Regions from separate parts of the Homo sapiens genome. Here region 2 is linked to region 1. Evidence: fine-mapped expression QTL. A gene starts in region 1. The other region holds a variant in brackets. All regions are shown on one strand. Distances are between the middles of the regions.

Evidence for each region. PIP is the estimated chance that this variant, and not a neighbour inherited with it, causes the effect. A credible set is the group of variants that fine-mapping cannot tell apart.
Region 2: its variant is the best candidate, but not a certain one, in a credible set for the expression of PLAAT4 in whole blood (INTERVAL, PIP 0.60).

What each region holds. Positions count from the first base shown.
Region 1 is chr11:63,534,074-63,539,446 of GRCh38, reverse strand. PLAAT4 (phospholipase A and acyltransferase 4) reads right to left here and starts at 2,639. Exons shown (of 4, transcript NM_004585.5): 1 at 2,570-2,639. The coding sequence starts at 2,578. RefSeq lists enhancers at 2,691-2,740, 4,398-4,487.
Region 2 is chr11:63,569,212-63,574,584 of GRCh38, reverse strand. It overlaps PLAAT3 (phospholipase A and acyltransferase 3), which reads left to right. Exons shown (of 5, transcript NM_001128203.2): 5 at 1-123. Among named protein-coding and RNA genes, the nearest start is that of PLAAT2, 8.5 kb to the right of the region's middle. The variant CTTTT/T (reference allele first, on the strand shown) is at 2,645.

The sequences.
Region 1 (5,373 bases):
CTGCAGCTCATCCTGGAGACGCCTTGCTGATGTTCATCAGCTGCTAGCCCCATGAGATCCTCAGCCCTGCTGTCACTTTCAGAGGCTCTTCTCAGTGGGGGCACTGGGGGCTGGAAGCCTGGAGAATGATCTTGTGGGATGGGAGACAGAAGGACCGTCTGGGCGCATGTGTGACATGTGTGTGCTGTGTGTGTGCATGCTGAGGATGCAGATGTGTGTGCATGTGTGCATTGTACACATGCTCCTCAGTAGGCCGACTCAAGAGCCTGCATGAACCAGCACCTTCACTGAGGCCAGGAGCAAGGCTGGGAAGGTGAGTCTTGAGCTCTCCGCCCTCTGCAGACTGACCCTCAGTTCCTCATCACTCCTGCCCTGTGCCTCTCCATGGCCCCAAGAGCCACCTCCTCCTCAGACCTTGCCCCATCCAGCCTCAGGACACCTATCTCTTGGAGATGACACCCTGGGAGACAGGAGCTCACAGCATCCTGCTGGGACCTGAGTGGGGTCTTGTGGGGCCCCCCAGCTCCCAGCACTGAGGGGGCTCTGCACTCACAGAACAGGCCTCTGTGGGAACTTGTCCTACAATAACTGCACCATCTCCACAGCCCCAGGGGAAGGCATGATCATCCCATTGCACAGATGGGGAAACTGAGGATCAGAGAGGTGGCAGGGCTTTCCTGAGAACACTCAGCTGGAAGGAGGCCGAGCTGGTTCTTCCCTGCACACCCCTCACCCTGGTTCCTGTCTTGGCCACCTTCTTCCCCTTCCTCACCTCCTTCCCACTTCTCCATGTCCTGCCCCAGGGCATAGCAGCCTCATGACTGGAGGATTTTTCCATTTTCACCCTCTCTGTCCCTGTCCTCAGTGGGTGACAGCCTCCTCCTCCCTCATCCCAGGATGTCCCATCATAGACCTGGGGTCTGCTCTCCTTTGCCCTCTTCCTCATGCCAATATCCAGTCACTAAAACCAATCAATGTGGACTCCGGAAGCTTCTCCTTGTTGGTGTGCTTGTCAATATCCCATCCACTGACTTGGTTCAGGCAGCCCCATGCCTGCCTCTGTGACCCCCACAACCCCCTGACCAGCCCCTGCCTCCTGTCCCTGCCACTCCATATCCAACTCCTCAGAACCCATGGTGGCCTTCCCAAGGGCACATCTGGCCATGACCGTCCTCTGACCTCAGGGCCCAGGACACACCCTGTGGGCAGCTCCCAGGCCCTTCCTGACTGGCCCTTCCTCACCCTCCTCTCCCTCCCTGGGCTCTGCACCCACAGGCCCACTGAGTGACATCCCAGCCCCTCACTACTGCCCTGGCTCTGGTCTCTGCTGCTCTGCACATCTGGTTCTCCCTGCCTCCATCACTTCCCTGCAGCCACTCTTCCTCTTCCCCTCCCTCAAACCCCCTCACCTGAGAAGCTGCCCTGATGGCCCCAGCCTGGCTCAGCTGACCCGCCACCCCACTCCTAGGACCTGGGTCCCCGGGGGCCTCTGCTGCTCTCTGCAGGGGTCAAGTTGAGCTGCAATTCCCTGTGCCTCCCTGTGCCCCTCTGGGCTGTGAGCTCCAGGCAGGCAGGATCCTGTGTGCTCCTCCCTCCCTGCACCTCCAGGACCCAGTGAAGGGCCTGGCGTAGAATGGGGCAAGGAAATAGACAAGGAAGAGGGAGGAGAAAGGAGCAGGGCCAGGACTCCCTCCCAGCTCCTCCTCTGTATGTCAGGGCACCACAGGAGATGGTTTCCATGTGGGGAGAGAGAGGGGCTTTTAACTGCAATGCTGAATGTCTAAAACCACAGTCAAGGTACTGGCAACCTCAGCTGGTGGCCAGTGAGATATGAGCTTTGGCCTGGGCTCCCTGTTAAAAGCCCTGATTTGTTTTGGCAGCAGTAAAGCCCTTCCCCAGGATCAGGTGGTGCTGTTGGAGTGGGCTGCCCTCCAGAATTTGCAGGACTCCTTCCCGGAATGGTTTTGTTTCTAGTAATAGCCTGAGCCCCGCTGTTCCTTTTTAGTCACACACCACCGAGCTCAGCCTGCTCTCCCTAGAGCTTCTGCCAATCGGTACATCTGGGCTGATAGGAGGAGAAATTTCAGTTTTCAGAAAGCTGCTGAGATTAGAATGCACCTTAGAAGGCTGGATGATGCCACAGAGGAACGAGGAGAGAGAAAGCATCGTTTGGGGCCGAGAAGGGACTGAGCCCCAGTCACAGCAGAAGCAGACGATGTTGGGATTTGCTTGCTTCCCACAACCCAGAGTCCCCCACCTGCCCACACTCTGGCTTCTCCTCAGGCTGAGGTAGATTTGACACCCGGCACCCCACAGCTCTCTACTACATGGGAGTCCCGGGCTCCCCGCACTGTGCCAGTTACGCAGAGGAGGTGGACTCTGCCCAGAGGACTCCCTGTCCAGCTGGGCAGATGCACTTTTAAAAGACAAATACAGTTTTCCATGACAGCCTTCTAAAGACGAGCTCTGGAGCTGTGTGCCCAAGGCCAGGAGCCTGGACTGAGGCCTTTCCTAGGGGGAGCTGCCCAACTGCTGTAGAGTCAGTAATGCAAAGCCCTGGGAAACTTACCGAAGCCATCTCGAAGCCAAGAGGAGGTCTGGTGCTCCTCTTGTTTGTGGATCAGCTTTTATGCTGAAGGAGAGAATTTCACTTTCACTTTCCTTTTGACACTGTTTCAACCTCACTTAAATACTAAACACTGTTTAAAAGAGACAACTGTTTAAAAAGGAGCTATTTCTCTAGATGGAAGGACTAATCATTTCTTACACAAGCCATGGACTCATTGGTGCTTTAAAGCCACCTTGGGAGCAGCCAGAGTCGAAGGGGAGCCCTGAATTTCTGCCCTTGCTTGAGAAATAAAGGTCTTTTCTTTTTTTTTCTTTTTTGTTTGTTTGTTTGTTTGTTTGTTTGTTTTTTTGAGACAGAGTTTCGCTCTTGTCACCCAGACTGGAGTGCAATGGTGCGATCTCGGCTCATTGCAACCTCTGCCTCCCGGGTTCAAGTGATTCTCCTGCCTCAGCCTCCCAGGTAGCTGGGATTACAGGCACCTGCTGCCATGCCTGGCTCATTTTTCCATATTTAGTAGAGACGGGGTTTCACCATGTTGGCCAGGATGGTCTCGATCTCTTGACCTTGTGATCTGCCTCCCCGTCGGTCTCCCAAAATGCTGGGATTACAGGTGTGAGCCACCGCACCTGGCCAAAATAAAGGTCTCTTCTAAAAAGAACCCTGGGCAGCTCTTCCTACTCCAGGAAGGGGAGGCATTCGGAGGCAGGGAGATGTCAATCCCCAGTGCACCCCATAGGACATTGTCTTGTAAAGACACCCAGAAAATATTGGGCCAGAAGTCTTGGGAGAAGGCCAGAGGGGGTGTTTCATTCCATGGGGATGCCCTGGAGGTGAGGGGTACCTTAGACCATGTGGAGCCTGGGAGCTCATGGCCCCATTAAAATGCATTTGGGTGCAAGAAGCAGAACTAAACTCAAAAGGGCTTCAACAGCCTGGACACCCATTGTCTCGGTAACAGAAAGGCAGGAAGAGGGTGACTCAGGTTGGGTTTAGTGGCTCACCAAGGTCACCAAGGACTCAGCAGGCTGTCTCCATTGCACTGGTCCTGGGTCTGCACTGTTGCCCTGCAGGGACTCCCATGGCTGTAGCAGCCTTGAGTGGCCCATTTTTACCTGGCTATGCCCAAAAGATGGAGGGAAAGATAATTCTCATTTGTCTTTTTTTCAGGGAGTTAAGTCTTTCCCACAGTTCCCCAGATGACCTGTTCCCTTCTCCATTGGCCAGAACTGGGCCATATTTTCACACCCAACCAGAGGCCTAGACAGGTGGATCACTTGAGCCCACGAGTTCAAGACCAGCCTGGCCAACATGGCGAGACCCCGTCTCTGCTAAAAATACAGAAAAAAAAATTAGCCGGGCATGGTGGCATGTGCCTGTACTCTCAGCTACTTGGGAGGCGGAGATGGGAGGATCGCCTGAACCCAGAAGTCAGGCTGCAGTCAGCTGAGATTGCTCCACTGCAGTCTAGCCTGGGCAACTGGAGTGAAACCATGTCTCAAAGCAAAACAAAACAAAAAACCCCCATTTCTGTTGTTTAGGTTAGCATGCCTCTGGGTTTCACTCAAAACACTGTTGAACGATGTTGCTGTGTTTGGGCAGAGCTTCCAGGGACCGCTGTGGATATCATGAGGAAGCCTCAGAGCTTTCTCGGGCAGAGCTTCTACAGGTGTCTTGCCGTGGTCAGTTTCTTTGCTGTTTTTATGGCCCTCTGCAGGAGTGTCCATGGTCATTATCTCAGCCACCTTTTGGTTTCAGTTTCTCATCAGGTCTTGGGGGTGTCTGGCCACAGCAGATGTTATCTTATTACCTCAGTCCTTTATACCTATGTTTATCATTTTGAGGGTTCAGCAGTTTCACTGTGGGCTGAGTCACTTGTCGTAAGTGACTCCATTTTGAAATATTTAGGATCACAAAACTCTTTAAGGGGGCCCCCACAAGAGTCTGCATTCAACAATCCCAGAGTCTGGGTTTTTGCCTTGTGGCATAATAAAAATTTTTATTTTTAAATAAATTTATGCCTTGTAGCATAATAAAAGTTTATTTATGCCTTATGTGGCATGATAAAAAAATATATTTTTGGTCTTTGACCCCAGTTCCAGACACAGAGGTCCTAAGACCCTTGGAATTTCCTGAGTGATAGGATGTCATGTTATTCAGAAGGAGTCTCTGTCAAACAAATCTGAGTTTATGCTAATGAGGTGGCTCTTGGTTGAGGAGGGAGAGCTGGATAACTTCAGGTTGGGGACTGATCACCATTATTTAATCAGTAATGTCTACATTATGCAGCCTCCGTAGAAACCCCTACATGACGGGGTTGGGAGAGCTTTGGGGCAGGTGAACACAGATGTGGTGGGAGACTGGCCTGGCTGGAGAGGGCATGGTGGCAAAGATTCTCTGTGTGACCACATTTTAGTCAGGTTCCCAAACCTCTTCCTAGGCACATCTGTACTTCCTTGTAAAATCTAATTTTAGCAAAGGACCCTGCCAAGTCAGTTTAGCAGGAACTTCCCACCCTCAATATCTGACCGGGTTCATCCTTCTCACTGTCCTCCAGGTGATGTCTGATCACCCCGGCCTGTCTTCAGCAAGAATCCTGTTAGTGTGGTTTAACCAGAATCTCTCTTGCCCCTGAGGTTTCCTCTTTGTAATTTTGCATCCACTGACCTGTATGCTTCTCCTTGCCTATGAATTCCCACTTGCCCGTGCTGTGTTCAAGTTTGAGCCCCATCTCTCTCTCTTGCTGCAAAATCCCAGTGCAGTGGATATCAAGCTTGTATCATTAGATAATTTTTTCTTTAACAATG
Region 2 (5,373 bases), 35 kb before region 1:
TAATACACAAGAACAGAAAGCAGCAGACAGCCAGGACCCTTGGCCCGGAACTAGATCTAGGATGGCCTCTGAGACTCAGCAGCTGGAGTCTGTAGATGTTCAGCTGAGTTGAAAAAAAAAAAGTCCTCGGCTATAAGGAAATTTAGTATAGATGCTTGCCAATCTTACTAAAATTTCCCTTATTTTCCTTTGCTCTACACGTCTTTCCTTTGCCTTGTTGCTTCCATCTCCTTGGCACTCCTGCTTCCTCACTGCTTCTGCTTGCCATGATCCCCAAGTCTCTGACCCACCTTCCTGCCTGCTCCTCTCCTCCCACATTGGCTCAGATTCTTTCCCCGCTGTCTGTGGGTCCACACTCCCAGTGGCACCTCCAGGAGAGAATCTGATTGGCTCAGTTCGCCAGATAACTCAACTTTCCCATTGGCTACCTTTGGGTCAGGTGATCTCCACTAGACCTATCGCCTATGCCTGATGGTGGGTCACATGGTGCAAATGTTGCCTGAGAGCTTAGTGGATTAGGGATGTGGCTGGGCTCATGGTTGACGTCCCTGCTGCTGAGCCCTTACGGGTCAGGCTGGGAGAAGGTACCATGTTGTGTGACTGGTCATTTGAGGTCTTGCAGCTGTTGCTTGCTGGGCTTGGCAGGTGTTCAAAGTGACCATTTTTCTGAAGGGTTTTTTTCTGAGTATTCCTCAGATGTACTCCCCTGGGGCCGACGGTCTTTCCTTCCACAGGGCGATGCTTCCCTACTTGCTTGTGAATGTTTCCTTCATCTCCAGGTTGTCTGGGGACAATTCTGTCTTTTGGAGGCCTGGGCAGGATTTACAGAGGGCTCCATGCCAGCTCCTTCCTGCCGGGTCCACTTCTGGTGTAGGGTAAACACCTGCCCATTCATGTCCTAGTGTTGATAGAATAATCATTTTCTTTCAGTACAGTTTCCTTTTTTTTTTTTTTTGCCCCGGCTTTTTAGATGTAGCACTTAATGCCAGTTCTCGAGCTCCCCAAACTTAAGGGACACAGGTCAACAAGCAGTAGGTCTTTGGAAGCTCGCTCTCTCACATGGTATAAGGTGAGGGGGACACATGGAATGTAAACCTCCAAACTAATTATGGGGGAAAAAGGAATGAGAAAAACAAACACAAGAAGGCAAAACAAAAACACCTGGTTCAATTAAAAACAACAACAAAGCAAAACAAAAAAAACCCAAAACCAAACCACACAATAAATGAGAAAAAAATTACATAAAACAGATGACATGTATAGAAATAAAAAAATAGAATGGAGGAACTAATTCCAAATATATAAGTAATCCTAAGTGGACTAAATTTGCAAAGTAAAAGGCAAACATTACACTGGATTAAAAAACAAATCCAGGGAATACAGTTTACAGCTGATACATTCAAAATATAAAAACAGATAAAATATAAATAAAATCGGTACAGTGGTGTCTGCCTGTAATCCCAGCTAGTTGGGAGGCTGAGGCAGGAAGACCCCTTGAGTCTAGGAGTTAGAGAACAGCTTGGGCAACAAAGCGAGACTGTCTCTAAAAAAATACACACACACACACACACACACACACACACACACACACACACACACACACACACACACACACACACACACACAAAGACTGAAATGGAAATGAGCCGAGATCGCGCCACTGCACTCCAGCCTGGGCAACAGAGTGAGACTCTGTCTCAAAAAAAAAAAAAAAAAAAAAAAAGAAAAAGAAAATATAGGCTTTAAAGCAAGTTATTACTAGACAGAGGACAAAAAAATTCTGATAAAAGTTTTAATTCACTAGAAATATATAACTTGCTTGCATTTAATAAGTCTCAAAATAATGAAATTTTTGACTGATTGCAAAGAGGAATTCATCATCTGCTGTTTATAACAGAATACCTGAAAGTGGGTAATTAATGAGAGATGATTTGACTTCTTATAGATCTGGAGGCTGAGAAGTCCAAGGTTAAGGGGGTGCATCCGGTGAGGGCCTTCTTGCTGGTGGGGACTCTCTACAGAGTCTGGAGGCAGCACAGGGCATCCCATAGTGAGGAGGCTGAGTGTGTTAGCTCAGTTCTCTCTTCCTCTTTTTATAAAACCACCAGTCCCATTCCTGTGATAAACCACTAATTCATTAACTCATTAATCCATGAATGGGTTAATCCATTCATGACGGTGGAGCCTTTATGATCCAATCACCAATTAAAGGCTCTTTATTTTTTCTTTCTTCTTTTTCTTTCTTCTTTTTCTTTCCCTCCTTCCTTTCTTTCCTTCCTTCCTTTTCTTTTCTTTCTTTCCTTCCTGTCTTTCTTTTCTTCTTTTTCTTCTTTCTCTTTTCCTTCCTTCCTCCCTCCCTCTCTTTCTCTCTTTCTTTCTTCCTCTTTCTCTGTTCTTTCTCTCTTTTCCTTCCTTCCTTCCCTTCCTTCCTCTCTTTCTTTCTTCCTTTCTTTCTCTCTTTCTTTCGTTTCTTCCTTTCTTTCTCTCTTTCTCTCTTCCTTCCTTCCTTCCCCTCCCTCCTTCTCTCCCTCCCTCCTTCCTTCCTTCCTCTCTCTGTCTTTCTTCTATCTTTCTTTCTCTCTTTCTCTTTCTTCCTTCCCCTCCCTCCCTCCCTTCCTCCTCCTTTCTTTCTTTTTCTTTCTTT[CTTTT/T]CCTTTCTTTGTTTCTTCCTTCCTTTCTTTCTCTTTCTTTCTTTCTTTCTTTTCCTTTCTTTGTTTCTTCCTTTCTTTCTCTCTTTCTTTCTTTTGCTCTCTCTTTCTTTCTTTTCTTTTCCCCTCCCCTCTCCTCTTTTCTTCTCTCCTCTCCTCTCCTTCCTTTCCTTTCTTCCTTTTTTTTTTGAGATAGAGTCTCACTCTGTCACCCCGGCTGGAGTGTAGTGGTGGGATCTCGGCTTACTGCAACCTCTGCCTCCTGGGTTCAAGCAATTCTCCTGCCTCAGCCTCCTGAGTAGCTGGGATTATGGGTGTGTGCCACCATGCTTGGCTAATTTTTCTATTTTTAGTAGAGATGGGGTTTCACCAAGTTGGCCAGGCTAATCTTGAACTCTTGACCTCAGGTGATCTGCCTGCCTCGGCCTCCCAAAGTGTTGGGATTACAGGCATGAGCCGCCACACCCTGCCAAAAGACCCATCTTTCAATACTGCCACATTTGGGATTAAGTTTCAACATGAAGTTTGGAGAGGACAAACATCATCATAGTGGGAGATCTAAATACACCTTTCTAAGGAACTGATGAATGAAGGAAACATAGAAGTCTATAAAGACATAGAAAATTTACCAACAAGCTTACTTAATGACCATATATAATATAATTGTGAAATACAGATTCTTTTCAACTGCACACATGGAATATTTATGAGAGTCTTAAAGCAAGCCAACAAATTTTAGATTAGTAACGTAGAAATAATCTTCTTTAACCGTAAAGCAATTAATTCAGGAATCAATAGCGAGAGATAACCAGAAAAACCCTATACTTTCAGGAATTTTAGAATATACTGCTAGATACATTATGAGTCAAAAAAAGAAAACTAATGGGAGTTAGATAATATTTAGAGCTGAATGATAACAAAAATACTAGATACCAATATTTGGACCATGCAGCTAAAGGGGTGCTTAGAAAAAATTTTGTAGCATAAATCCTTACATTAAGAAAGGAAAAGGTGACTTGGCATGGTGGCTTATGCCTGTAATCCCAGCACTTTGCAAGGCTGAGGTGGGAGGATCGCTTGAGGCTAGGAATTCAATACTAGCCTGGAGAAAAGAAAAGAAAAAGAGAAAGAAAGCAAAAGAAGAAGAGAAAAAGAAAGAAAGGAAGGAGAGGTGCAAGTTAAGGAGTTAATTATCCAATTTAAGAAGACAGAAAAAGGGGAAGACAATACAAAGATATGAGCAAAAATAAATGAAGAAAAACAAGCATATAAAAGAGAGAAGGCACAGCAAATGATTTAGGAGTAAAAAAGAGACCACAACTATAGATGCTGCAGAGATTAAACCAGCAAAAACAAATATTGATAAATAATTATAAAAAATTGGAAAATTTTGATGGAATTGATATATTCCAAGAAAAATGTCATCAAAATTGAACCAAGAAAATATTTAAAAATCTAAGCAGTCCTTTGCTCATTAAAGGATAAATCAGTAGTTAACACTTTTTCTACAAAGAAATGGTGTGCCTGGATGGTCGTGTAGGTGAGTTTTACCAAGGATTATGGTAACAAATGAGTGAGACCTCTATGGAGAAAATATTGAAGGACATTAAAGAAGACCTCATAAATGGAGAGAGATATATCATTAATGGATAGGAAGCCTCAATGGCATAAGTATGTCAGTTTCTTTCAAAACTCACCTATGGATTCAATGTGATTCCAAACCAAATCCCAACAAGGTCTTTCCTGGAATTGGAAGCCAGATTCTGAAATGTATTTGGAAAAGTAAAGAGGCAGGGTTAGCTATTTCATTAACAAAGAAGGAACATCAGGCAGGGAGACTTGTGTTATTATTAAGGCTTATTATAAATTATTATTGTGATCAAGATAGTGTATTTTTGGTGTAGAGATAGTTAAATTGGCCAATGGATTGAGCCAAATTTCCAAAACAGACCCACAAATAAATGAAACTCTAATTTACAACAGAGACAGTACTGCAGATCATGGGGGGAAAGGATGAACTATTGAGGGATTGGCAAACTTTTTTGGTAAGGGCTAGACAGCCTTACGTGGTGTTCACAGTGTCTGTTGTAGTTAGTCACCTCTGCTGTGGTATTGTAAGAGCAGCTATAGACAATACTGTACGTGAACAAATGATCATGGATATGTTCTAATAAAACTTTATGTGCATTGAGATTTAAATTTCATATAATTTTCATGGGTCATGAGTTATTAGCTTTCTTTTTGTTTTTCTCAGCCATTTAAAATGCAGAAACCATTATTAGCTACTGGGCTGTACAAAAACGGGCAAAGGAGACCAGGCATGGTGGTTCACACCTATAATCCCAGCACTTTGGGAGGCAGAGGCAGGAGGATTATTTGAACTGGGCAACATAGTGACACCCAGTGTCTATTACAAACAAAACAAAAACAGATGAAGGCCTGCATTTGCCTGTAGGCTATAGTTTGTTGATCCCTAACTAGTAAATGGTATTCACATATAACCACATGGACTTTGCACTGCACAGAAAAAGTCAGTTTGGGGAGAATTTCAGACTTACATGTGAAGGACAGATGTCAATTTTTATTTTTATTTTATTTTTGAGACAGAGTCTCGCTCTGTTGCCCAGGCTGGAGTGCAGTGGCATGATCTTGGCTCACTGCAACCTCTGCCCCCTGGGTTCAAGCAATTCTTGTGTCTCAGCCTCCTGAGTAGCTGGGATTACAGGCG